7 linked regions of the Homo sapiens genome follow. The protein of the gene in region 7 interacts with the protein of the main gene of each other region in a pairwise test. Each region holds a gene or a part of one and is shown on either strand. Other genes may lie near its edges. The genes, in order: MAL, LPAR3, MS4A13, CTXN3, SEC22A, SLC38A7 and EDA.

What was found.
Region 1: the proteins of EDA (region 7) and MAL interact in binary tests that used the Homo sapiens proteins (3 or more experiments, as listed by UniProt).
Region 2: the proteins of EDA (region 7) and LPAR3 interact in binary tests that used the Homo sapiens proteins (3 or more experiments, as listed by UniProt).
Region 3: the proteins of EDA (region 7) and MS4A13 interact in binary tests that used the Homo sapiens proteins (3 or more experiments, as listed by UniProt).
Region 4: the proteins of EDA (region 7) and CTXN3 interact in binary tests that used the Homo sapiens proteins (3 or more experiments, as listed by UniProt).
Region 5: the proteins of EDA (region 7) and SEC22A interact in binary tests that used the Homo sapiens proteins (3 or more experiments, as listed by UniProt).
Region 6: the proteins of EDA (region 7) and SLC38A7 interact in binary tests that used the Homo sapiens proteins (3 or more experiments, as listed by UniProt).

What each region holds. Positions count from the first base shown.
Region 1 is NC_000002.12:95,028,708-95,032,207, reverse strand, and holds part of MAL (myelin and lymphocyte protein), read right to left. Parts: intron 1-3,500. UniProt on the Homo sapiens protein: May be involved in vesicular trafficking from the Golgi apparatus to the cell membrane. Plays a role in the maintenance of the myelin sheath, and in axon-glia and glia-glia interactions.
Region 2 is NC_000001.11:84,865,707-84,869,206, reverse strand, and holds part of LPAR3 (lysophosphatidic acid receptor 3), read left to right. Parts: intron 1-3,068; 5' UTR 3,069-3,086; coding exon 3,087-3,500. UniProt on the Homo sapiens protein: Receptor for lysophosphatidic acid (LPA), a mediator of diverse cellular activities. May play a role in the development of ovarian cancer. Seems to be coupled to the G(i)/G(o) and G(q) families of heteromeric G proteins.
Region 3 is NC_000011.10:60,539,392-60,543,221, reverse strand, and holds the end of MS4A13 (membrane-spanning 4-domains subfamily A member 13), read right to left. Parts: intron 704-3,830; coding exon 647-703; 3' UTR 501-646; downstream 1-500. UniProt on the Homo sapiens protein: May be involved in signal transduction as a component of a multimeric receptor complex.
Region 4 is NC_000005.10:127,655,582-127,659,081, reverse strand, and holds the end of CTXN3 (cortexin-3), read right to left. Parts: intron 1,660-3,500; 5' UTR 1,561-1,659; coding exon 1,315-1,560; 3' UTR 452-1,314; downstream 1-451.
Region 5 is NC_000003.12:123,267,943-123,271,289, reverse strand, and holds part of SEC22A (vesicle-trafficking protein SEC22a), read right to left. Parts: intron 1-3,347. UniProt on the Homo sapiens protein: May be involved in vesicle transport between the ER and the Golgi complex.
Region 6 is NC_000016.10:58,674,771-58,678,270, forward strand, and holds part of SLC38A7 (sodium-coupled neutral amino acid transporter 7), read right to left. Parts: intron 2,655-3,500; coding exon 2,556-2,654; intron 1,577-2,555; coding exon 1,519-1,576; intron 1,352-1,518; coding exon of another isoform or gene 1,306-1,351; exon of another isoform or gene 1,285-1,305; coding exon 1,170-1,284; intron 954-1,169; coding exon of another isoform or gene 844-953; exon of another isoform or gene 764-843; intron 573-763; coding exon of another isoform or gene 544-572; exon of another isoform or gene 480-543; intron 1-479. UniProt on the Homo sapiens protein: Symporter that selectively cotransports sodium ions and amino acids, such as L-glutamine and L-asparagine from the lysosome into the cytoplasm and may participates in mTORC1 activation. The transport activity requires an acidic lysosomal lumen.
Region 7 is NC_000023.11:69,955,113-69,958,612, reverse strand, and holds part of EDA (ectodysplasin-A), read right to left. Parts: intron 1,587-3,500; coding exon 1,481-1,586; intron 1-1,480. UniProt on the Homo sapiens protein: Cytokine which is involved in epithelial-mesenchymal signaling during morphogenesis of ectodermal organs. Functions as a ligand activating the DEATH-domain containing receptors EDAR and EDA2R. May also play a role in cell adhesion.

The sequences.
Region 1 (3,500 bases), on a different chromosome or scaffold from region 7:
TTCAGCCCTTGTCCCTGGCCGACCTGAGTGTGAGCGCTGCTGGCAGCAGCATCGTGGGGCTTCCTACTCACTTCTGAAAGCACTGGGACAGAAAGGGTGCCTTTGCACCAGTTCTGGCATTGCCCCATCCCTGTGAGGTGGGGGAGTGACTTATGAAAAGCTAAAAGGCAATCTTTTAAAATATAGCTCAGGTGTGATGACACATGTCTGACAATCCTGTGGAGATGAGCCCCATCATCACACTTAGCAGTTTCCAGGGAGCAGCTCAAAGTTACTGAGTCCTCACCAAAGCCAGCCTCTGGTCTTGAAAAACCAGAAAAGTCACTTCTCCACCAAACCCCTGTGAAATCTCTGTCTAGAACACTTCTCCTCCCTTTAGAGAGGAAGAGAGGAGAAAACACGGAAGATCAGGCAGTAGCCCTCTCTAAATAGCTACAGAGAAGGGACAGAGCCAGGAGCCAGTGGACACAGTCAGAGAAGGCCAACTCAGCCACCATCCCATTCTGGCCAAGCGGGGCCTGCCCCACTCCCTGGTGCCTGTAGGAGAGGCTCCTAGCTAGCACAGCAGGGAACTTTCTCCAGAACAGAGGAGGTCCCTGGTCTGACTTGTGAGAACCTCAGAGCACCTGGCTGCTTGCCCCAGCCTCTCCCTGAGAACTGTTCCCACTATTCTATCCCCCATAAAAATATCAAGAGGGTGGCCTGGCCTCGAGATGTCCGCTCCAAGTCTCAGCCAGTCAGTGGAGGGTGTGCAGTGCAATGCGGGTTCTTCAACCTGCCCTGGACCTCGTGACTCAGAACCTGCAGGGTGTGTTTTTGACAAGGAGACCCAGAGGAGGTGTGAGCTTCCCAGTGGTCCTGAGCTGTCCCTTCATTCCTGTTGGGGGAGAGAAGGGACCAAGCCTTGCCCAGAGCTGCCAGGTGGGCAGGGCTGCCTACTCAGGATCCCAGTGTGCCTTCTAGTGCAAGCAAAATCTCGTGTGGCTGATTAGGTGAAAGGAGAAGCCTGGGCATGATCTGCTCACTGCCAGAAGTGCTCACTGGACCCTGGAGACCCGGTGACCCAGGCAAGTTGCTCCCTGTCTGAGCCTCAGTTCCCTGCCAGCTCTGAAAGTGAGGTTTCTGTCATTCTACGTCTCTGGTCTCCTAGGAGTTCCCATGCCACCTTCTCAGTGCAGCCACAGCTTGGACCACCTAATGCGAAACTGCCTCGCTGGCCCATGGCCCAGTCCCGGCTCTGTCGGGCTGGCTATTCCCCAGCCAGGTAGAAATCTAGCAGAAGTCCCCAGACCTCTCTGGTCACTCTTAATAACAGTCCAGTCACTTTGGGTCACAGAAAAGGTGTCATTTTAGTCATTACTCTGTCCAGTTCACTGTAACTGTCAAAACTGCAAACTGATTGCGGGTGTCTCCCCACCCCAACCCCAACCCGTGATGTGACTGCACTTCTGTTCGTGTTTCTGAGGCACAGAGGAGGAAGGGCATGCCCCTGGAGGGCTGGGCGGCATTCCTCACACCCTCACTCACAACCCTGCCTCCTTTGTGGCCTGGGGAGGAGGGGGCTGAGTAGATGATCTCACAACCCTCTTCAGGCACTTCCTTCACAAGTCCTGAATGGGTAGGGGGTCTCTCCTGGCACTCTGTGGGAGACCTCGCATCTGGGGGCCCCAGCTGAGACAGAAAGCCTTCCCTGTGAACCTTTCATTCCCTGAATGGTGGCCCAGTGTCAAGGAAGTCCCTGGCTTAGAATGGAGACGGAGACAGAGACAGAGAGTGGCTCCAAAAGGAAAAGTTCCTCACTGGGTGGGACTTTTGCAGGGGAGCAGACGAGAAGCAAAGCCCTGGGTTTTGTTGGAGGAGGGGAGAGCATTGGCTATTTCACCCTTGGCCTATATGGGGCTGCACTGATGACCACACCACCTGCAATAGGGGCACAGCCTCTGTGGCTCTGGAGGTATTTGGAAAGGCAGTCTCACTTCCTAGTTGGGCCTGCCTTCCTCTTCCTGTGAGGACTCTGCAGCTTTCAGAGGTCAGGAGGTCTGGGATAGGGGTGCTGGGCCAAGGAGAGGTTGCTATGCCCCACCCTGAGCTGCCACCCTCACTTGCTCCAGTGGGCAGTCCCCTCACCATGGAAGTGGCGCTCCACCCGGATCAGCTTGGACATCTGCGCCTCCCAGGCTGTTGGGAGGTCAGGCATGGGAATCTGAACTATGAGTCATCAACAACTCAGTGGACTACAGATTTAAAAAATAATCAAGCATTTCACACCCATTGGACTAGCAGAAAATTATAAAGTCTGACGCTACCAAGTGATGAGGAACAATGGCGACTTTCATGTGCTGCTGGTAGGGGCCGGGGAAGGTCCAGGTTTAGCCTGAAGCTTAAACAATCAGGAGGACCATCTTTATAAGAGAATACAAAATTAGGCAGAGTCTTGGAAGGGGCTTGAGTAAGTAGGGGTCTTGAACTTAATTAAACATCAGCTTCCCAGTAAATCTGCTCCTGGGGTGTGTAAATTGGAATTACTCTTTTGGACGGCAATGTGATAACACCTGGGAAAATGACAATGTGCATATCCCCTGTGACCCAACAAGTCACATCCTCCAAGTGTCTCTGGGAGACATTTCCAACAGGTAACTACAGAGGCAAATATGAGAATGTTCTTAGCAATGCTGTCTGCAATAGCTAAAGGCAGCAAATTGGAACTATCCAAAGTGTCTATTAACAGAAGACTGGGTAAACAAAGTCAACATGTATAAATCTCAGAACATAATGTTGCCTGGAAAGCATGTTGCAGAAGGATACGTACTGTATGCTGGCATTTTCATAAAGTGCGAAAACATGTAAAACAATGCCATGTGTAGTTCATATGTGTGCAGTAAAAGTCTAACCTGTGCTTGGAAGTGAACACCACATTCAGCCTACAGGTGGCCCTGAGGACGGAGGGAGAGAGAGAATAAGATAACAGAAGGATGTCTAGGAGGCTTAGATGCCATCTGAAAGCTTCATTTCCTTAATACATAACAGCAAACAAGGCAAAATATTAAGATTTGACAAAGTTGGGCAATAATTATGTAGGTGTCTGTTAAAGTATTGTATATGTTCTTCTGTGGCATTTGAAATATTTCTATTTTTTGTTTTTTAAACTTGAGGTGAAATTCACATATCATCAAACCAATCATTTTAAGTTGACAGTTCAGTGGCATTTAGTACATTCATGGTGTTGTGCACCCACCAACTCAATCTAATTCCAAAGCATTTTCATTACCCCCAAAAAGAAACCACATAGCGATTAAACAATTGCTCCCCTTGGTCCCTGGCAAACCACCAGGGTTTGTGTTCTGTCTCTATGGATTTATCTATTCCAGTATTTTATATAAACGGAATCATACACTATATGACATTTTGTGCCTTGTGTCTTTTGCTTAGCATAGAGTTTTCAAGGTTTATCAACTTTGTAGCACGTATCAGTACTTCATTCCTTTCTATGGTCAGGTAGT
Region 2 (3,500 bases), on a different chromosome or scaffold from region 7:
CATTGAGGTGTTAGTGCTTGATATAATTAAAAATTCGACCACATGTAAGAAATAAAACTAAAATGTTAAGATCCTTCAAAATAAAATTAGGAAAATTTGAGTAGTATTTTTGTAGTGTCTTAATTCCAATGTCTTTGTGACATATTCATCTTTATATTTCTAATAAATTAGTCAAAGATAATATAACTTTTAAATTAGAAATGTTTCTCTTAGATGTATAGAGCATGAAACAAAGTAAAATATATACATTATTTTTAATTAGAAAAGACACATAATAATTGTATTATTAAATTTTCCCATGTGGTGTCTTAGTCTATTCCTGTTGCAATAATAAAAATACTTTAGGTAATTAATAAATAACAGAAATTTATTGCTCACTATTCTGGAAGCTAGGAGGTCCAAGATCAAAGCATCAGTAGATTTGGTGTCTGGTGAGGGCCTGGTCTCTGCTTCCAGAAGGGGGCAAATGCTGTGTCCTTGAATGGCAGTGTGGCAAAAAGGGTCTCACGAGTTCTCTCAGGCCTCTTCAATAAGGGCACTAATCCCATTCACTTCCCAAAGTCCCCACCTATTAATATCACTGCAGTTAGGGTTAGGTGTCAACATGAATTTTGGAGGCACACAAACATTCAGACCATAGCAAGTGATTCTCGGATTGTTTGTCTTGAATTTCTGTATACTTTCAACATGGTTGAAAGCTGTATTTCTCTTTAAATATTTAAATTGAGTATCACTAGATTAGCACCTTGTATTTAACTCTCATATGCTGCTGGTAGAATTAAAAATATGATCTCTCAGGCTGGGTGTGATGGCTCATGCTTGTAATCTCAGCACTTTGGGAGGCCAAGGTGGGCGGATCACCTGAGATCAGGAGTTCGAGACCATCCTGGCCAACATGGTGAAACCCCGTCTCTACTAAAAACACAAAAATTAGCCGGGCGTGCTGGCATGCGCCTGTGGTCCCAGCTACTCAGGAGGCTGAGACAGGAGAATCACTTGAACCCAGGAGGCAGAGGTTGCAGTGAGCCAAGATTGCACCACTGCACTCCAGCCTGGGCGACAGAGCAAGACTCCATCTTGGAAAAAAAAAAATGCTATCTCTCTTAAGTGGAGTTTCACAAGATGTATCAGAAACCCTTAAATAGATTTATATCCTTTACTTCAATTTGAAATCTATGGGTTATTCCTAAAGAAACAATTGGCTAGATATATAAAGATTAATGAACAAGAATGCAGCCTTGCTTATAAAAGTGAAATACAGGAAGCAACCCTAATGTCCAGTATTTAGGATTAGTTAAGTCAGGTGTGGCCTATTCATATAATAGAATATTGTGAAGCTATTAAAATTATACTACCTGTATTTTTAATTTGGGGAAATTATGATATAGTGTAAATATATGATATTATCATGAATTTATTTGATATTTACAGTTAAATATTGGTGACTGTCTGCCAAAGAGAGTAATTTTTATTTTGTCATTATGAAAATTGAGTCTTCCTTTCTTGTAATTGAAAGATACTGGAACCATTTGTCTCTTGAGACTACTCCCAGTTTTTTTTAAGCATATAAAATGATATTTACCTCCCATTTGCTATGGCCAAAAAGCAATATCTAATTCATGTAAAAGTATCATTATACCATTAAAATATAAATTAAAAAAAAGACTGAGATACATTTCTATTTTGTACTACTTAATAGTTATCTGGTCTTCTTGATTCTGGTTGTGGTATTAGATTTCAGAATTTTCAGGAACTTTAAAATCTGGGGGCTTTTACTGAGCTTTTACTGTCACAGCTCCCAGAGGGCTGCTCAGTCCCTCTGCCGACTGAATCTCTGGTTCTCCAGGGAATAAGCTGCAGCCTCATTCTCAGTGAGGGAGCAGATGGTCATTCTTCCAAGAAGCTAGAACCCTGACCCTAAGCCCAATCTTCTTCCGTAGGACCGTTCATGGCTGTGGCCAGACCACTGTGAGGCAGAACACTTGGTTTTCCCCACCACGTGTAGACAGATGGGCATCCGTGGGGCTTCTGCCCAGCCCTTCCTTGGCCAAGATCCCTCGCTTTTGGGATTCAAGAGATCTTTTACTGAGAGGATTAGTGTCTTCCCTGTCTGCCTGATATCCCAGTTTGGGGTCTTCTTTCAGACAAGTGTCTGAAGAACATGCCCTCACTTAATAGATATGTTCTCACATCCACATTGAGTTGGAGATCTGCCCCAATTCCAAATCTCAGTCTTGCCTGTGGAAGCCCGATCCTCCTCCACCTGCCGTGTTGAGGAATGCTGGAAAATCCAGTGAGCAGGTTCACATTGGTACAGTTTGGGTTAGGAGACTATAAGGAAGAAGTGAACAAAAGGTAAGGAAGGGAGATATTGGGACCAAAGTCTCCATCCCTGCATCATATACCTAATATGTGAATATCAGAGTTGTTTGTTGAAACCAAAAGATGGCAAAAGGAGGATCAGGAGTGGAATCAGAAGTCATAGAAAACTGGTCTCTTGGGGTATCTGTTTGGTTATGTGAATGGTAATTCAACTCCTATTATCTTGGGAAGAATGTACCTGAAATTACCAACCTGCCGTTGATTAATGAACATATCCATAAATAACTAATGAACTGGGAGCCAGGAGGAGGCATTAACATAATGTGTTGTCATTGTGTTACCAGTGCAGAGTGGATATTGCAGGGCTCAGCACATTTGCCCTGTTGATGCCTCCATGAGAATTCATTCATTCATTCAGCCAGCCAGCCAACCTACCAATAATTACCCACCATGAGGCAGACAGAGCAACTGAATCCTAGGGTTGTAATGGTGAACAAAATAGAGATACACCCTCCTAACCTGAGCGGCCTAGCCTGGGAAACAAACAATTAAAATGTGCGCTAAATGCTGTGGTAGGAGGTCAGGGGCTATGTCCTGGACCAAAGGACATTTGCACTGAGACCTGACACTTCAGGTCTTCAACTCCCTTGATGGGAGTTAGCCAGAACGGGCTTAGAAACAGCAATTGATGGCTTAGTGACTGATTTTACAAATGATATTTGTTTCTTCTTTAAATTTCTTTCTAGGATGTTCACTTCTCCACAATGAATGAGTGTCACTATGACAAGCACATGGACTTTTTTTATAATAGGAGCAACACTGATACTGTCGATGACTGGACAGGAACAAAGCTTGTGATTGTTTTGTGTGTTGGGACGTTTTTCTGCCTGTTTATTTTTTTTTCTAATTCTCTGGTCATCGCGGCAGTGATCAAAAACAGAAAATTTCATTTCCCCTTCTACTACCTGTTGGCTAATTTAGCTGCTGCCGATTTCTTCGCTGGAATTGCCTATGTATTCCTGATGTTTAACACAGGCCCAGTTTCAAAAACTTTGACTGTCAACCGCTGGTTTCTCCGTCAGGGGCTTCTGGACAGTAGCTTGACTGCTTCCCTCACCAACTTGCTGGTTATCGCCGTGGAGAGGCACATGTCAATCATGAGGATGCGGGTCCATAGC
Region 3 (3,830 bases), on a different chromosome or scaffold from region 7:
AGAAAATTCTCCTTATTGTGGACAGTCTGTCTGCTTTGAAAAGCAGTTGAACAGGTGATCCAAACAATGATAAGAAGAAAGAAGCAAGGGGAAAGAAAGATAAGAAAGATAGCAGATATGTTCAGGGCAGAAAGGAACTTTAAATAAGGAGAAGAGAAGTCAAAGAACAATGAAGGAAATATGAATTAGAGGCCTTTTGATTCATACTTTGATAGAAGCTAGTTAAAGTAGAAGAACTCAGACTGTAAAATGTGCTTTCTGCTTGTATGGACATAAGTATTTAAAGTTTTCCTGTGAATTATACGACATCATGGCCCAAGTCTTTATAGCCTTCACTCTAGAGATAATAATGAATCTTTTTTACAGTCTCTTACAAAAGCTTTATTATGGAGAGTTGACAGCTATTCAGCGTACCTAGATAACACATTCATCCTGTAATAATCTCATATTTAAATAGGGAAAAACTTTCCTTGCAGCCTAGAAAAATATAAGCAGAGACATTTTTGAATGAGGAGAAAAATTCACCTTGTTTGTATTTTATTTTGCACAAAATCTGTAGGCTTCGTAACTGCTTTGTTATACAGAGATATCATTAGGACCCACACCAGGCATCAGCAACAGCAAAATTCTCATATTTCTAGGGTTTTTAAGGAGTGCTCTCAGCTTCCTCAGTAACAGATGTAAGATCATTTTGTCTTCGAAACTGGAAAAAAAGTAACCTCTTACAAATCATATCATGTTTCTTAATATTATACAACTAATAAATAGATCTTTTTCTTAAAAAATACAGGTAATACTGATATTTATAGAGTGAAATCTTAAAGTATCCTATTTCTGTCCCATTCCTATTTCAACCTTATTTCTTTCTTCCTTTCTTTCTCTTTCTCTTTCTTTCTTTCTTCCCTTCCTCCCTTCCTCCCTTTCTTCTTTCTTTCTCTTTCTTTCTTTCCTTTTTCTTTCTTTCTTTCTCTTTTTCTTTCTCCTTCCTTCCTTCCTTTCTTTCTTTCCTTCCTCCCTTCCTCCCTTTCTTCCCTTTCTTCTTTCTTTCTCTCTCTCTCTTTTTCCTTCCTACATTCCTTCCTTCCTTGGGTTTTTTTTTTTTTTCAAGGTCTTGTTCTGTTTTCAAGGTCATGTCGCCCAGGCTGGAGTGCAGTGGTGCGATCTCGGCTCACTGCAACCACCTCTCTTTCAGGTTCAGACTCAAGAGATTCTCATGCCCCAGCCACCCGAGTAGTTAGGATTACAGGCCTGTGCCACCATGCCTGGCTAATTTTTTTGTATTTTTAGTAGAGACGGGGTTTCACCATGTTGACCAAGCTGATCTTGAACTCCTGGCCTCAAGTGATCCTCCTGCTTCAGACTCCCAAAGTGTTATGATTACAGGTGTGAGCCACCATGCCCAGCCTTCAACCTACTTTCTTAATTTCTGTTGGATCACTTGTATCTTTTGGTGTACCTTCAAACTTTTATAATAAAAATAACCATAGTCTTCTTGAACATAAATCTTAATAGATGCCAGCACCCTAGCCTCTCATGACATTTCTCAACCATTACCTATTCCTTCCCTTCAAGGTAATGGTCATTTTGACTTTTAGATAAGGTCAATTTTTTTTCTAGTTTCATGAACTAAGCTTCATCCCTAAACACTATAGGTTAGCTTTAGTTTTACCTGGTTTCAAACTTCATATGAATGGATTTTTTTACAAGTATGCATTCTTTTGAGTTTTTATACTCAACATTTTATTTGTAAGATCCATCCATGATGTTAAGTGCAGGTATAGTTGCTTTTAATCACCATGTCAAATTTGAATGAAGTAATACACCTCAACTTATTCATCACTCACCCACCTGTGTTGTTTCCACTTTGGGACTACTATGAATAATACTGCTCTCTATATATTCCTGGAAGTTTATCTTAATGCATAAGCGCAAACATTTCTGTTGGTTATATACCAAAGACTTAAATTACTGATCATAGGGTATGCACATTTTAATTTTTAGTAGGTAATGCCCAAAAGGTTTTAAAAATTGTTGCAATAACTTATATTTCAACTAGGAGTTTGAGAGATATTTCTTTTATCTACAATCTTTGCTATCAGTTGGCATTGTCAATAGTTTGAAATTCAGTCATTCCAGTAGGTACTTTAAAATATCTCTGTCATTTTAATGTTATTATTACAATGAATAGATTTATATCTGACATTTTATTATTTGTTTTATACACGTCTCATGTGTTTTCTTTTCCTTTCCTTTTTTTTTTTTTTTGTGAGATAGGGTTTTACTCTGTCACCCACACTGGGGTACGGTGGCCTGAATATGGCTCATTGCAGCCTTGACCTCCTGGGTTCCAAGTGATCCTCCCACCTCAGCTGCCTAAGTAGCTGGGACCACAGGCATGTGGCACTATGCATAGCTAGTGTTTTTATTTTTACTTTTTTGTAGAGATGAGGTCTCGTCATGTTGCCCAGGCTGGTCTTGAACTCCTGGGCTCATATGGTCTTCCCGAGTTGGCCTCCCAAAATGCTGGGAATATGGGTGTTAACCAACCAAGCCTGGCCATTGTGTTCTTTCTTTATTTTTTAAAAATTAAACATACTTTGTGTATGTTAATTCCCTTGTTTTTAAGCTATTATATTTTTAGCTTGCTTAATCACTAAATAAGCACCCTAATTTATCACAGTCTACTTCAGATGAATGCTAATTCAATTCCAGTAAAATACAGCAACTTTATTCCCATATAACTCATTCCCTTTCCTTTTCTTTGTGCTATTATTGTCATCTATTCTATCTATATATATTATGTAACTACCAATATGGTGTTATAATTACTGCTTTTATAATCTTATCTTTTAAAATTTAAGAGAAAAATTGAGAAACTGTCTATTGAAGAAGGGTTGGCAAGCTATGATACATGGACCAAATCTAGCCCACTCCCGTTTTTGCAAATAAAGTTTTGCTGGAACAAGCCATATCCATTCCTTTATGTATTGTCTATGAATACTTTCATGCTAAAAGGTGGAGCTGAGTAGTTATGACAGATGGAATTAATGTTACTAATAACACGACCTTAAATTAAGGTAATCATCCTGGATTACCTGGGTGAGCCCAATGCAATTAATGCTACTGTCTTTTAAATCAGTTAACAGAAGAAAACACAAAAGATGTATTTATACTGATTTTCATAACCACCTACATAATTACTTTTACTGGCACTTTTTTTATTTATTCATGTGCATTTGAGTTTCATCTGATGTCACTTCAGTCTAAAGAACTTCCTTTAGTGTTTCTCATGAGGAATTTCTGCTAGCAACACATTATTCATCTGTGTATGTCTGTATTTCACCTTCATTTTTGAGGGATAGTTTTAAAGGATAAAGAATTCCTGCCTGACTGTTTTTCCCCCTGCACTTTAATATCCCATTCCACTACCTTCAGGCCTCCATTGTTTTGGATGAGAACCCAGCTGTTTATATTATTGTGGTTCCCTTATATATGAAGAGTCTTGTTTTTATTTTTTTTTGCTGCTTTCAAGATTTTCTTTTTTATCAGTTTGACATGGAGGTGTCTAGGAGGATCTCTTTGTGTTTATTTTACTTGAAGATCCTTGAGCTTTTTGGATGTATTGAATGTTTTCCATGAAATTAGGGGAATTTGGGAGCCATTATTTCTTTAATTTTTTTTCTGGTACTCCCCATTTTTATGGGACTCCCATTATACATGTGATGGTATCTCAAAGGATTTTGAGGTTCTGTACAGTTTTCTTCATTTTCTTTTTTTCCTGTTCTTCGGACTGGGCAATATCTTTTTTGCTCTCTTTATGTCTGTTTATT
Region 4 (3,500 bases), on a different chromosome or scaffold from region 7:
AAATTAATGAGGACACACATGACACAGTACATTTGAAAGAAAAAGAAAATCTTATAATTAATAGGTTAAAGAAGTGTGCTTTTTTTAATCAAAAAAGGTAATGACTAGCTGAGGAGAAAACTAGAAGACATAGATTATAAATACAGCCTAACGGGGTTGGTTTAGGCTGAGTTATCTGCAGGGTTGGTTTAGACACAAGCTTTTCCTTCCAACAAAAGTTGGAATAAGAGGTATTCACATCTCCCTTTTTGGTGGTCTTAAAAACTATCGGTTTTGTCTGTGCAGGACAATTTATAGGAGCTCTTCTTGAAATGGGAGAGGGATGAATTAGATGAGCTTTCATGCTGTTAACTCTTTTCTCCTCTCTTGGAAAAATGTTAAGCCTCAGCACTTAATACCAGGTAGCACCCTCAGTGCATTAGTTCTGGTGAAATAAGAGAGGAAGCATTTCTGTTTCTTGAAAAGTTTTATTTGGTGACTATATACAATCATAAATACACATTCCTCTGAAGACTATAAAAGTCTTCTCCTCTAAACAATTAACTTTTCATTGAAAAAAAACTTTAAGCTGCACTTGCAACCTATTTTTTAAATCATTTGTGTAAAGTGTAAATTCAAGTAATGTATAGCTACCTCTACACATGTTATTAATATGAATACATATAATGTAGTTGGCTTGGTAAATAGTTTTTAAAACTTTGTAGCCTTTGAATTAAGTTTTACTTGAAAAACAAAACGCTATTCTCACTCACATTTACCAAGGACAGAATCATCTCTTTTAAGCTTTTCCATTGCTTCCCAAAGCTCCCTGCTTTGGGAGAAAACAAGAAACTACTTTGGGTCCATTCAGCACAATCTTCCTCATTCTGCTCAGGACCCAGATAGGTGCCCATGAAATAAAACAAATATAGACATAATTAGAGCAAGGAAATCTCTTCCTGGCCTTGTCACCAGATTCATATGAGATCCTTTCTAGTCTTTTATTCTTTAGTCAGATCAGGTGGTGTTTTGTTTGATGGCAAATCTATGTCAGTATTAACGCTCTTGGTTTCACAATCACACAATTTTAAGAGTACTCATTCATTGAGCAAACATAAAAATTTAAACCTTCTTATGTTGGATTAGTTATATAAGTGTCCATTTCCAACATCCTCAAATGTCTTTAACCCAACTGCATATTTATGGAATAATGGATTATGGTCCTGGGACCAAATATTGTTTAAATTTGATTTGTTGAGAACACTAAATAAAGGGAATCCTCACCAAGACACAAAGCACTTCATCTCCTCAGGAGGAGATCCCACACCATCCCTCCTAAGCAAGGGCATGGTCGAACTGCCCTTTCTCCAGGCCTTCAAGTCCATCAGCCCAGGTAGAGGTTGGCATGCTTCGATATGGATCCAAAAGAATCCGGAAGCACCGGACAATGAGAATGCCCAAGAAAATAAACAACAGAATCACAAAAACAAATGTCATTTTCTGCTCCAGGGACATGCTAGAATCTGCTGATTCGTTCCCAAGGGGCACTAGGGATGAGGGGATGGGCTGTCCTCCATCCATGGTCCAGGGAAGCCAGAGCACAGGATATCCTGGTTTTCTTTTCTTCCATCATCAATCTGCGGAGGTCATGGTGGCTGCACTCTGGAGAGGCTGAGTTATCTGCAGGGAAAAAGGAAGGGAAAGGAATACCTATAAAATAGCAGCCTTATTTTTTTAGGTTCACAGTCATATTTTTCAGAGAGAAAAAGAAATCTGTAAACCAGCTTTCTTTTTCACCAGAGATGCTCAATTCTGTATAATTATCGGGAAAGATATTTTACTCTTGCATGAAATTACCAGATTGTTCTCAGAAGAGCCACCTGGGGCCAGGAGGGATGGGCAGGGAATACGACTATAATATAGAAGATGAGAAATGTGCACAGTAATATTGACCTCAGGGTGTACTGTCAACTTGACATCTGAACCCAGCCTCCCCTGCCAAGTCTCCTCCTGCTCTGCTCCACTAATATTACTCTCACATTGTTCTTACGATAGCGCCATTGAGGGAGCCTCAGCTATGTGTCAGCACAGTGGCTAAACTTGAAACATGTTAGCCACTTTACTGCAAGCTTCACGAAAGCAGGGATCTCTTTAGCCCCAGTGCAAGGAAACTGAGGCTAGAAAAGGTGCTTAAAATAGAAACCTTCTCCAGGAGCATTGGGTTCTGGGCTCCGGGCTCCACTCTACTGCAAAACGGGTGTGGGACCTTGGAGAGGTCACTAAGCTGTAAAAATGCAAGTAGCAATGCCTGCATCTTTCATGGTGCTGTAATAAGGATGAAGAGCTGTGAAAACCCTTTGAAAAGTATACAAAAAAGAAAAACAAACAAAGCCAAGTGTTGCTTCACCTAAGACACAACTAAGGGAGCTATGCTGCTTCTCCTTTCCTTTCTACTGCCTGAGCCAAGGGAGAACGGAGGTATCTCAGTCTCCCAAACTATCAAGTTACTGCTGCTTTTTCTTTTTTCCTCAGAAAACAAAGACCAGGTTCAATACTTGACCCTGGGAAGCACCTAGAGAATTAAGCCAAGAGAAAGGAATTGATCGATGCATATTTTCAAAAGGACAGTTTTCCTTAGAGTGGCTTCCTACCATTTAAGACTATTCAGTAGAGAGGAAGAGAAGGAAAAGGACAAGCTAACACTATTTTAATTTTACTGGTGGAAAAACTTAGATATGTAGATATTACTGTATAAATATACAAGTGTATATTACCGTATAAATATACAAGTATATACATGACAAGTATACACAGAGGTCGTTAAAAGCTTCAGATACTGAACGAAATCTACTTAAATCACATCGTAAATAAAAGTATATACATTAGACACTACTACTATATAGAAAATTAAATGATATTTATTATGAATTTATTTATAATAAAAATTACAAAGCACAGTAATTAGCTACGGAAATTAACACGGACACAAAATAAATTTTGCTCAATGAAAATAACCAAATAAAAATAGAATATGTGACCTAAAGCATCAATACAATGTTCCTTCAGTTAACTTATAATCATTGCCTTCAAGTACAGCATTAGTAATCATAGCATAACAGTTTGCATTATATTGACACTTCAAAGTTTGTAAAATTACAGTTTAAAAAACAATTTATAAGGGGGATCCCAGCCAGGATCTGGGAGGAAGGAGTTACCAGTCGGGTAATGCATCATTTTTGCAGCTCTATCACTTTGAATTTTTTTAAAGGCTATAACAGTTGCAAAACTCATTTATAATTCATGTTTGTTTGGAAGTAAGATTGGGATAAAAATTTGACCGCATTTTAAAAAAATAAGCTCTTTAGGAATTTAGAGGATATTAATGCACTGGGTTTTGTTTTGGTTTGCTTGTTTCTAAGCACCCTCCTAGCCTTGGGTATTAATTCCTTGTGGGCCAGGAAGGGAGGGGCAGGAAGGGAGGCCAGAGCCTCCAATGCAGGTCTCCTCAGCACATCAGACCA
Region 5 (3,347 bases), on a different chromosome or scaffold from region 7:
TTTTGTATCATATTTTAAATGGAAGTACAATGGAATGACTTCCTTGCAAACAGGCTGAGCAAATTCCCCATGGTGACAGGCAACTAAGAAGCATTCCCAGGGTCTGCGGGTGTTCCATTCTCACCCAGGAAAATACAAAAAAGCACATACAAGCTATTCTACAAAATGGACTCTTAATATAACCTGAGTCTGAGTATTAACAAAATCCACAACATTTTACTAGTCGCCCACTGAGTACAAGGAACTATGCTAGGTACAGCATCTGACTGAACATTTGAGGGAGAATTCATTCAACAAATATTTACTCAGGGCCTGCTACAAGTCAGGCATTGTTCTTCAGTTGTAAGTAAAACAAAGCCCTTGTTCATATAAATATTAAATTTTAATGGGGAAGAATTATAAATGTATTTTAAATATATAATATCAAACAGTTATGTCTTGAAAAAGAGAAAGCAGGAAAAAGGGATAGGGAGTAAGAATGATAGTGGGTGCTATTTTAGATGAAACGGTCAAGAAAGTACTCCCCCTCTCACCGCTCCTGCCCATCCTGGCATTCACCCTTTACTGCTTTATTTTTCTCCACAACATACTATAAACATACTTGAGAAATGTGCTTATTTTGTTTGTCATCCATAGGCTTTCAACAGAATCTATTTCATGAGGGGTGAGATTTTTTACTGTTATTTACTCATTTATCTCCAGTGCCCAGAACAGTGCCTGGGACATAGTAAGTGCTCAATGTGTTGAGTGAATAAACTGTTTTCTAGAAGATGTCTAAAATTCACAACCTGGTAAGTATAGGAACCACAAAGTCTAAGAGAGAGGCCCAGGTCTCTCTGAGAAACTGTGTCCAGGCTTCAGAATGGGAAGGACACACCAGTGTCTGTTATAATGCAGAAAGAATGTGGAAATGTTCTGTTAAATATGTTTAGTTCTTATGCAAATTTGGACTGTTTACTTAAAAAGAAGACTGCTATCCAAGCAAAATGAATTGGAAGTATTTATCAGTGATTTTCATCATATAAGACTGAAAAAATAGAAAAAAATAGCTTTTTCTTTCTAAACAATTTTAGAGTTAAAGATGCAAAAACAGTTTATTGTATACGCTTTGTTTACTGTATACTCTTCACCCTGTTCCCCGTTATCCTCTTATGTAATCATAGTATAATCATCAAACCAGGAAATGAACATTGATTCAATACTCTTAGCTAATCTACAGACTTTATTCAGATTTTGCCCATTGTCCCACTAGGGTCCTTTTTCTGGTCCAGAATCTAATCTGGGATTCTGTATTGCATTAATTGTCATGTATATTCCAATCTGTAACAGCTCCTCCATCTTTTTTTAAAAAAATTTTTGGCCAGGCATGGTGGCTCACACCTGTAATCCCAGCACTTTGGGAGGCCCAGGCAGGCGGATCACGAGGTCAGGAGATTGAGACCATCCTGGCTAACACAGTGAAACCCTGTCTCTACTAAAAATACAAAAAATTAGTCGGGTGTGGTGGCGGGCGCCTGTAGTCCCAGCTACTCGGGAAGCTGAGGCAGGAGAATGGCATGAACCTGGGAGGCGGAGGTTGCAGTGAGCCGAGATCACACCACTGCACTCCAGCCTGGGCAACAGAGCAAGACTCCATCTCAAAAAAAAAAAAAAAAAAAAAAAAATTCATGTCCTTGACAGTCTTGAAGAGTATTAATCAGTTATGTTGTAGGAATGTCCCTCAACTTGGGTGTGTCTGATGTTTTGTCAAGATTGAAATGAGGTTATACAATTTTGGCAAGAATATCAGAGGTGATACGCAATACATGTTATTACATATTAAATTAGATCACTTAATAAGGTGGTATCTATTCCCTTTGCAATTATTGTCTTGGGGGCAGGGAGTTGAGATTATGTGAATATCTTATCTCATCATACTTTTGCTCATTAATTTTAGTATCCATTAATGATTCTTGCCTGCAACAATGATTACTGTGGTGTTCGCTTAATGGTGATTTTATATTTCCATTTTTTATCTATATTTATTGCTTGGAATGCTACTGTAAAAATGAGCTAGCATTTCCAGTAATATATACACACACACACACACACACACACACACACACACACATATATTTAATTCAAGGTTTTCCAAGGCTTTTAAAATAATAGGTCTCTACCCCACATATTACTTATTAATTACAAAGAAGAAAAAGATATCTTTGCAATGGGGATCTGGTAGACACCATCTTAACCAAATGATCAAACTTATCACATTTCCTGACTGAAGCAATGAGAGATATTCAGCATATTATACTATACAGCACTGTTGCCAGAATATTTAACCTTAATATAATCACGAGTAACAGACTAATCCAGATTGTGGTACTTGCCTGAACTCTTAAAAAAGTCAATGTTAAGAAAGATAAAACCAAACTAAAATAGAACAACAACAAAAAGGCTGGGAGACTGTATCATAGATCAAAAGGTACACGACAATCAAATGAAATGCATAATCCTGGATCAGGAGAAATATAGCCACAGAAAACATTTTGGAGACAACAGAAATAATCTGAATAGGAATCATATATTAGATAATATTGTATCAATGTTAAATTCTTAGATGTGATATGAAGTCCTGGCTATGTAGACAGATGTCTGTATTCTTAGAAGATACATCATGAAGTATTTTAAGGTAAAAAATATCATGATGTCTGTAACTTACTTTAAAAACAACGGCTCAGGGACTTCTGTTTCTGGGAAGATGGAGTAGACACACTTTTCCCTATTTCTCCCACTAAGTACAAATAAAAACACTGGACATTATATGTAAAACAAGCATAAGAAGACTCTGAACTGTGGAGGAAAAGCAGACAAATAAAGAATCTTGAGATCCAAGAATGCCACAGTGGTAGGTTCTCTGAGTTTTCTTTTTTGCTTCATATATCCCAGACTTGGAGCTGAAGAAGCTGGCAACTAGAAATGCCAAGGCATGCATATCAAAACAAACAACAAAAAAGACCCTCAATAACATCTTGCTCTCTCTGGTAAAAGACCAGGAAAGAGGCACCTTAGCAAGACAGAAAACTTTTAAACAGTAACTATTATCCTCTAGCCAAACATCACACAAAAAACCCCTGTGACCCACCCATACCCACACCATCAAATGTTGAGAGCCTAGAACATTATAAGCAGATGTTTTAACCCTTCAGCATGGCTTCAGAAAAGGCAAGTAGAAGCCAGGACTTTCATTCCCACTAGATGGCAATGAATCCCTCCTCTACCCTCTTATTGTGATATCAGTGGAGAACACGTGGGACTCTGGACACCCACTTTCACTTGACAGTAACAAGATAATTCATTTCTCA
Region 6 (3,500 bases), on a different chromosome or scaffold from region 7:
AGGCTAGAACAGTATTGGCCCAGGCAGCTCCTACGGTCTATCCGTGGAAAGAACTCAGGGGATCCTTCTTCCAGGGTCTCCTAGACTTGCTCCCTCACCCCAACCACTCTCCACACGGCAGCCAGAGCCACCTTTCCCCGAACCACCCCCCTGCTTAAAACACTTCCTCGATGACTCCCAGCAGCCCTCGAGGCCCAACAGGATCTGGCTGCCAGTGCCTGTCTGGCCTCACTGCCTTCACCTGCCCCCATCACACACCACTCCAGCCACATAGACTTTCTTCCTGGCCCTGCCTCAGTGATTTGGTGTTTTGTGGTTCCTCTGCCTGGAACCCTTCTTCCCCAGCTCCTCCTCTTCTGGCTCTTTCTCATCATTTGGGCCTTCTCTGAGAAGAACCTTCTGTGAACCACTCCCAAAGCCACCCATCCAGTCCCATTCATACCTTCCCCATTTTAGGCTGGGTTGGTGGCTCATGCCTGTAACCCCAGCACTTTGGGAGGCCGAGGCAGGAGAATTGCTTGAGCCCAGGAATTCAAGACCAGGCTAGGCAACATAGTGAGACCTTGTCTCTGCTAGAAAAAAAAAAAAAAAAAAATTAGCTGGGCACAATGGCACATGGCTGTAGTCCCAGCTACTCTGGAGGCTGAGGCAGGAGGATCACTCGACCTCAGCAGGTTGAGGTTGCAGTGAGCTATCATCATGCCACTGCACTCCAGCCTGGGCGACAGTTTCTGAGACCCTTTCTCAAAACAAAATAAAATAGAATAAAACAAAACACACCTTCCCTATTTCACTGTCATCAGGATGCTTGCCACCATCTGGAATTCCTTACTGATTCCCCAGTTACTCCTGCATGACTGTCTCTCCAACAAGAATGTCAACTCCATGAGGGCAAGACCAGTTCTGTCTCTCTCCATGGCATCCCCCATGCTGAGAACCGTTCCTGGCACTTCCTAGGCACCAAGTTAGAACTGGTGAATGAATGGATGAATACACCACTCTCATCTTGGCAGGAGGAGGCTCCAGGCAGGCCAAGTTCAAGCCAATGCCTATACAAGTCATGCTGGGAATGCAGGGCTGTCCCCAGGAAAGCTAGGCCCCAGGACCTAGGGACTCCTGTGGAAGTGAGAGCACTCTAGTCCCAGGTCTTGGGGGGGGGGAGCACTCACCTGTCCCCATGTAGACAGCGAGGGCTATGACCATGGCAGCTGTCACCACTCCACCCCAGGTCTTCACTTCAGGCTGCTGCATGCTGTTGAAGACGGGCACACTGCTGACGTGGCACTGTCCAGGTGAAGGGCACCGTCATGGTGGGGAAATGACCTCAACCCCAGTTTCCAGAGGAAGGTACCTTGGGAACAAAGACCCCAGGAACAAGGGGCAAGTCCTGAGGCCCCTGTTCCATCCTTCCCCCCAGGATTTCCTCCATTCTGCCTGGGTTCCTCCTCCTTGCTGGGTTCCATCCCAGGGTGGGGTGATCTAAGGGGACAGCAGGGACCTTGCAACTGGCACTGGCACCTGAAATCCGAAGCAGATGGTGGGCATGGCATTGAACACAGCCATCCAGGAAGCCGGCCTGTGAACAAACACACATGGTGCTGCCACCTGGGAACCCCTCAGAGCCACAACCCACCCCACGCCCTCACTCTTCGGTCAGCCCACCATGGTCTCCAGCAACTGGGATTCCATAGCTTCAACCCACAGAAGTCTGGGAACAGGGAGAAGAGGCATCCTTATGTCCCAGGGCCCTCTGGGATGGGGCCTGGAGGTTCAGAAAAGCCCCCCTGGGGCCAAAATCCAGAATTCCTGGCTCCTGGACTGGGGCTTTTGCTTTACTGGTTTGTTCCTTTCAAAAGAAGGAAATTGTTTTTTTTGTTTTGTTTTGTTTTGTATTTTTTTGAGATGGAGTCTTGCTCTGTCACCCAGGCTGGAGTGCAGTGGCGCGATCTCGGCTCACTGCAACTTCTGCCTCCCAGGTTCACGCCATTCTCCTGCCTCAGCCTCCCGAGTAGCTGCTACTACAGGCGCCTGCCACCACACCCGGCTAATTTTTTTGTATTTTTTAAGTAGAGACGGGGTTTCACCGTGTTAGCCAGGATGGTCTCAATCTCCTGACCTCATGATCCGCCCGCCTCGGCCTCCCAATGTGCTGGGATTACAGGCGTGAGCCATTGTGCCTGGCCCCCCCCCTTTTTTTTTAATAATAAATTCACCCTCAAAGATACAGAAATTACAGATAAGCAGATGCTGGAAACACAGGCAATTCGACCCTGGGATTCCACCCTCAGGTTCCTCCACAACCCAAGGCCTAGCCTCACACTGGCTCATCTGTTGGATGTAGGTGGCAAAGTGCCTCCTGTCTCTGATTCTTGCTCTTCCTTCCAGTAACATCAGAGCAGGGGCTCTTTCCTCCTTCCTACAATGACCAAGTCAGCCCTGATGAGCTCATGAGCCTTGAGAAGAGCACCTGTGTGGCCTTCTGGTTCCTGACCCAGCACCTGCTGGGGCCCAAGTGGTGGCTTCTTCCCCATGTCTCCTAGGGCCCTCACCCTCACCTGGTCAGGATGTTCCCTGGGGTCATCTCTTTATCTGGCCAGATGTACTTGATGATAACGATGGCTGTGACGTACCAGGTACCCACGACGCTCAGGAAGCTGCCGGGAAGGAGAGACTAAGTGTCCTCATCCCCAGCTGCCTCTTATCTGATTCCACCCCTAGGGACATCCACCTTCAGCTCTAGCGACCACAAGTGTCCACTGAATGAACCGGAGACTATGCCAAGCAGACTCAGGAAACGCCTGAGAAGTAGTTTCAGAGAAACCTGCCACAGCTAGGAAGGAGCTGGACAGCCAACAGGGGACCTGATCAGCATTCCTGGCCATCAGGAAGTGCTGGTTCAGCTCCATGGCTCAGAGACGATGCAGAGAGCAGAGCTCCAAAGCACACCTGGGACTTGAATCAGAGCAGCCCAGCCCGGGCAGGGGCTGTGGGAGACCATCCTCTGAGCCTGGCCTTTGAGAACTAAGAGATGCCAGAGGTAAGAGGGTTGAGAGTACAGACACTTTTGTGTCAACATTTATGGGAGCCTTGGAGAGAGCGGAGCATGGCCCCTGCACTTACAGACGGGGAAGCCTAGAATCCCACAGCCTTTCAGACACCGAGACAGGAAACCAGTCTCCTTCCTTCATGCCAAGCTGCAGGTAAGATGCTGGTAGGCTGACAGTCTCAAAGACCCAAATTCCTCCCAGGGAATGCCAGGAGGCTGCCTTCACCGCCCAGATACCACCTGTTCCTTCTTTGACAAGGGCACTTAGAACTGAACTACTCATGGATGCAAAAGGACATTTAGAACTGAATCTCTCATGGATGCATCCTTTTTCTATGATGGAGACAGAAAAGGATGGTCTTATCTGAAACCCTGCAAGCCCCGGTCTGCCCTGCCTTGCCTACTCTTGCTCCCCAAGGTGAGGTGGCATGGAGGAGCAGGGTTCCCCAGGAGC
Region 7 (3,500 bases):
GGTCCAGTTCTCCATTCAAAGGCTCAATGCTGCTGCCACCTCCACTGACTAGAAAACCCTATCTTACTGCTCTGGCTCTTTTTTTTTTTTTTTTTGGTATTATTATGGGGTCCTTGTTCTGAGCTCTTTCTCAGATTTCAGCCAGTTATACTTCTTATTGCCCCTACTGACAAAGTCCTGGCTCCATCTCTTTAATAGCTTCCGCCCTCTAAAACTGCTTCCATCAGTGGCCCTTACTCACATCAACAAATGTCAGTTTAAAATTTTCATTTTCATCTGTATAAAGTCATATTGCTTTGTAACCCTCCAGACACATATTATTGGCAGATGTAGCCAGACACATGCTGTCTTTGAATCCAGATGCCTTTGCAGCAGCCCAGAGCTATGTATTCTACAAACCCCTGTGCCCAAAGGGGTAGCATTATGTCAATTGACAGAGTGATGCTGAAATATCAGAGCAATTCAAAGACCCTGCCCAGGAGCTAGCTCAACATTTTGTTATGCCCCACAGAATGCATTGCTAGTTAACTCAAAGCTATTACACCCAGAACAGGGATGGTTTCCATTGATACATCACTGCCTAGCTGAAGGGGCAGTCAACATCATCGACTTACATAACAATCACCAACAATGTTCCAGATAGTAGGCTAGATTCTAGGCTTATACAAAGAGAAATGAAATCTCTGCCCACAAGAAACTTATAAACTAGTTCTAGAAGGTCTAGTTCAGATTTGGGCATGGTAGTGGATACCAACATTGATAAAATTATCATTGGAATTAACACATCATGTAAGTGCTAGCAGGGTACAACACTGTCAATTCCAAGAATAGAACCAAATCCTCCTGTTGACCTTAATAGGTGTGGGACATCTCCGGGAGAGATGAGGCCCTTATAGAGGGTGATTTTGAGAGATACAAATGCTATCATGGCTCTCAGACATACTGAGAAAGGACTGAAGGTATCTGGAGTTGGAGGAGGGAGGATCCTTGTATAGTTAGTTCTATGTTAAAGGACTGATTGGTAGGTTAGGCTGCAGAAATAGTCTATGACCTTGGGTCTGTGGTGGACAGTATATAAGATGATGAAGCACACTTGAAAAGGTAGTGGTTTTTTTTTTTTGTTTTTTTTTTTTTGAGATGGAGTCTCGCACTGTCACCCAGGCTGGAGTGCAGTGGCACAGTCTCAGCTCACTGCAACCTCTACCTCCCAGTTTCAAGCGATTCTCCTGCCTTAGTCTCCCAAGCAGCTGGGACTAGGCCCGGCTAATTTTTTTTGTATTTTTAGTAGAGACAGGGTTTCACCATGTTGGCCAGGCTGGTTTTGAATTCCTCACCTCAAGTGATCTGCCCGCGTGGGCCTCCCAAAGTGCTAGGATTACAGGCGTGAGCCACCATGCCCTACCAAGAAGGTAGTTCTTAAAAGGATACTTTTACTAACAAATAATTCAGAAGTGATAAAGGATCAACTGAGTAGACTTACCATCTGCTCCTTCATTGCTTTTGCTTCTTTTATTGCGGCGAACACGCCTACTTTCTTCTTCAGAGTATGGCTTTTCATCAGGGAAGAAGAAATTCAATAGGGCCATCTGTAAAAATTACAAGTACATTAGTCAAAGGTTGACCCCACTCAGTCATAGCCAACATAAAAAACCAGCTTTCCATAGACAGTCTACCTGTACCTTAAGTTTGATGTGTCTAAAGCCTGAGCCCATCTTCCCCTCCACTGTACAAACCATTTTATTTTTGATACCATTATTATTCCAATCATGTAGGCATGACATTTTGGTTAATTTCTGAATCCCATTTCTTCCACCCTGAATATCTAATAAATAATCCATCAGGTCCCATTTCTTCATATATTTCTGGGATTCAGAGAGCCTAGCCACAAATTTCTAACTTCCCACACATACTGAGGATGCTCACTCAGAATTTGAGTTGAACAGAAAATTGAACAGAAAACCTTGAATTTGGCTGGGAGCAGTGGCTCACGCCTGTAATCCCAGCACTTTGGGAGGCCGAGGTGGGCGGATCACCTGAGGTCAGGAGTTCGAAACCAGCCTGACCAACATGGTGAAACCCCATCTCTACTAAAAATACAAAATTAGCCGGGTGTGGTGGTGGGGGGTGCCTATAATCCCAGCTACTGGGGAGGCTGAGGTAGGAGAATCGCCTGAACCTGGGAGGCAGAGGTTGCAGTGAGCTGAGGTCGCACCACTGCACTCCAGCCTGGGCAACAAGAGCAAAACTCTGTAAAAAAAAAAAAAAAAAAAGAAGAAAGAAAGAGAAAGAGAAAGAGAAAGAGAAAGAAAGAAAGAAAGAAAGAAAGAAAGAAAGAAAGAAAACCTTGAATTTGCTGCTCCCCATTGGACTTCATTATTACACATTCATGATTTTGCCACATTGCTATTTATGATGTAATTTTGGTTTGTTCCCAAAATGCTGTGCATCCAATACTGAGGTACTATTTGTCAATGCTCTTCTGGGAGTTAGTCATGACAAAGTACACAATTATTTTCTCCTCTTCTGAGATTCCTATAGCACTTGTGGTCTATAAGACTAATTTTGGTACCTGGTCCTCTACTGTCTTATAATGGTCTCTGATAATAATACAATATGTTTCATATGTGAATGGGTCTGGCTTCACTAATAATCATAGCTTAAATATATATTTGCTGAATTGAATCATAATCTTTTAGCATGAGTGCTTTACTGTGGTAAAACCATGTGCTTGAGGTAAACAGTAAACACGGTAGTAGGACTGAGTGATTCTAATGCCAACTCTGCCACTTACTAGCTGTATAACCTGGAACAAGTTACTTAAACTTTAGTTTCCTCATCAGTAAGTAGGGATAATAATAGTACTTTGCAGATAAAACAGTTGCAGAGTTAGAACAGTACTTAGCATGTAGCATGCACTTAATAAATGTTTGCTATTACTATTATTATTAAACTTAATCTTCAAAATAGAATGGTTAATTTGGGGCCTAAAATAGAACAAATGAATCTGCATTTTCATTCTATTATCAGTTCAAAAAATAAAAAATTCCAGAGTCCTCATGTCTGCTCCATCTCTGATTAAGTGGAAAAAAAATGGGTTGGACCCAAGAAAGCCCCAATATTCCACACAAATTTTCTTCAAAATTCTGTGATTTACCCAATATCCTTAAGGTGTAGGATTAGCATCTTGAAGGATACATGAATGTATTAAATATAAAATTAATAAATCAATGTGTAGGTAATTTCCATCTTGTCAACAGGACTGCATTTCAAAATAAACTGCCATTTTTGTCAAAAATGGTTGAATATCAATCAACAATTTCACATGGTTCAACTGAGTAGTATTTTTGAGTCACTTGATTGGAATGTAAAAATGCATTTTCTCATACAATCAACATAATAAAGTTTGGCTAGTTCTCCTGATAAGCCCACAGAAAGTTACTTAACTCACAATATAAATAAGCTAAGTACTAATAATAGTATAAAACTAAACTGCTGTTTAC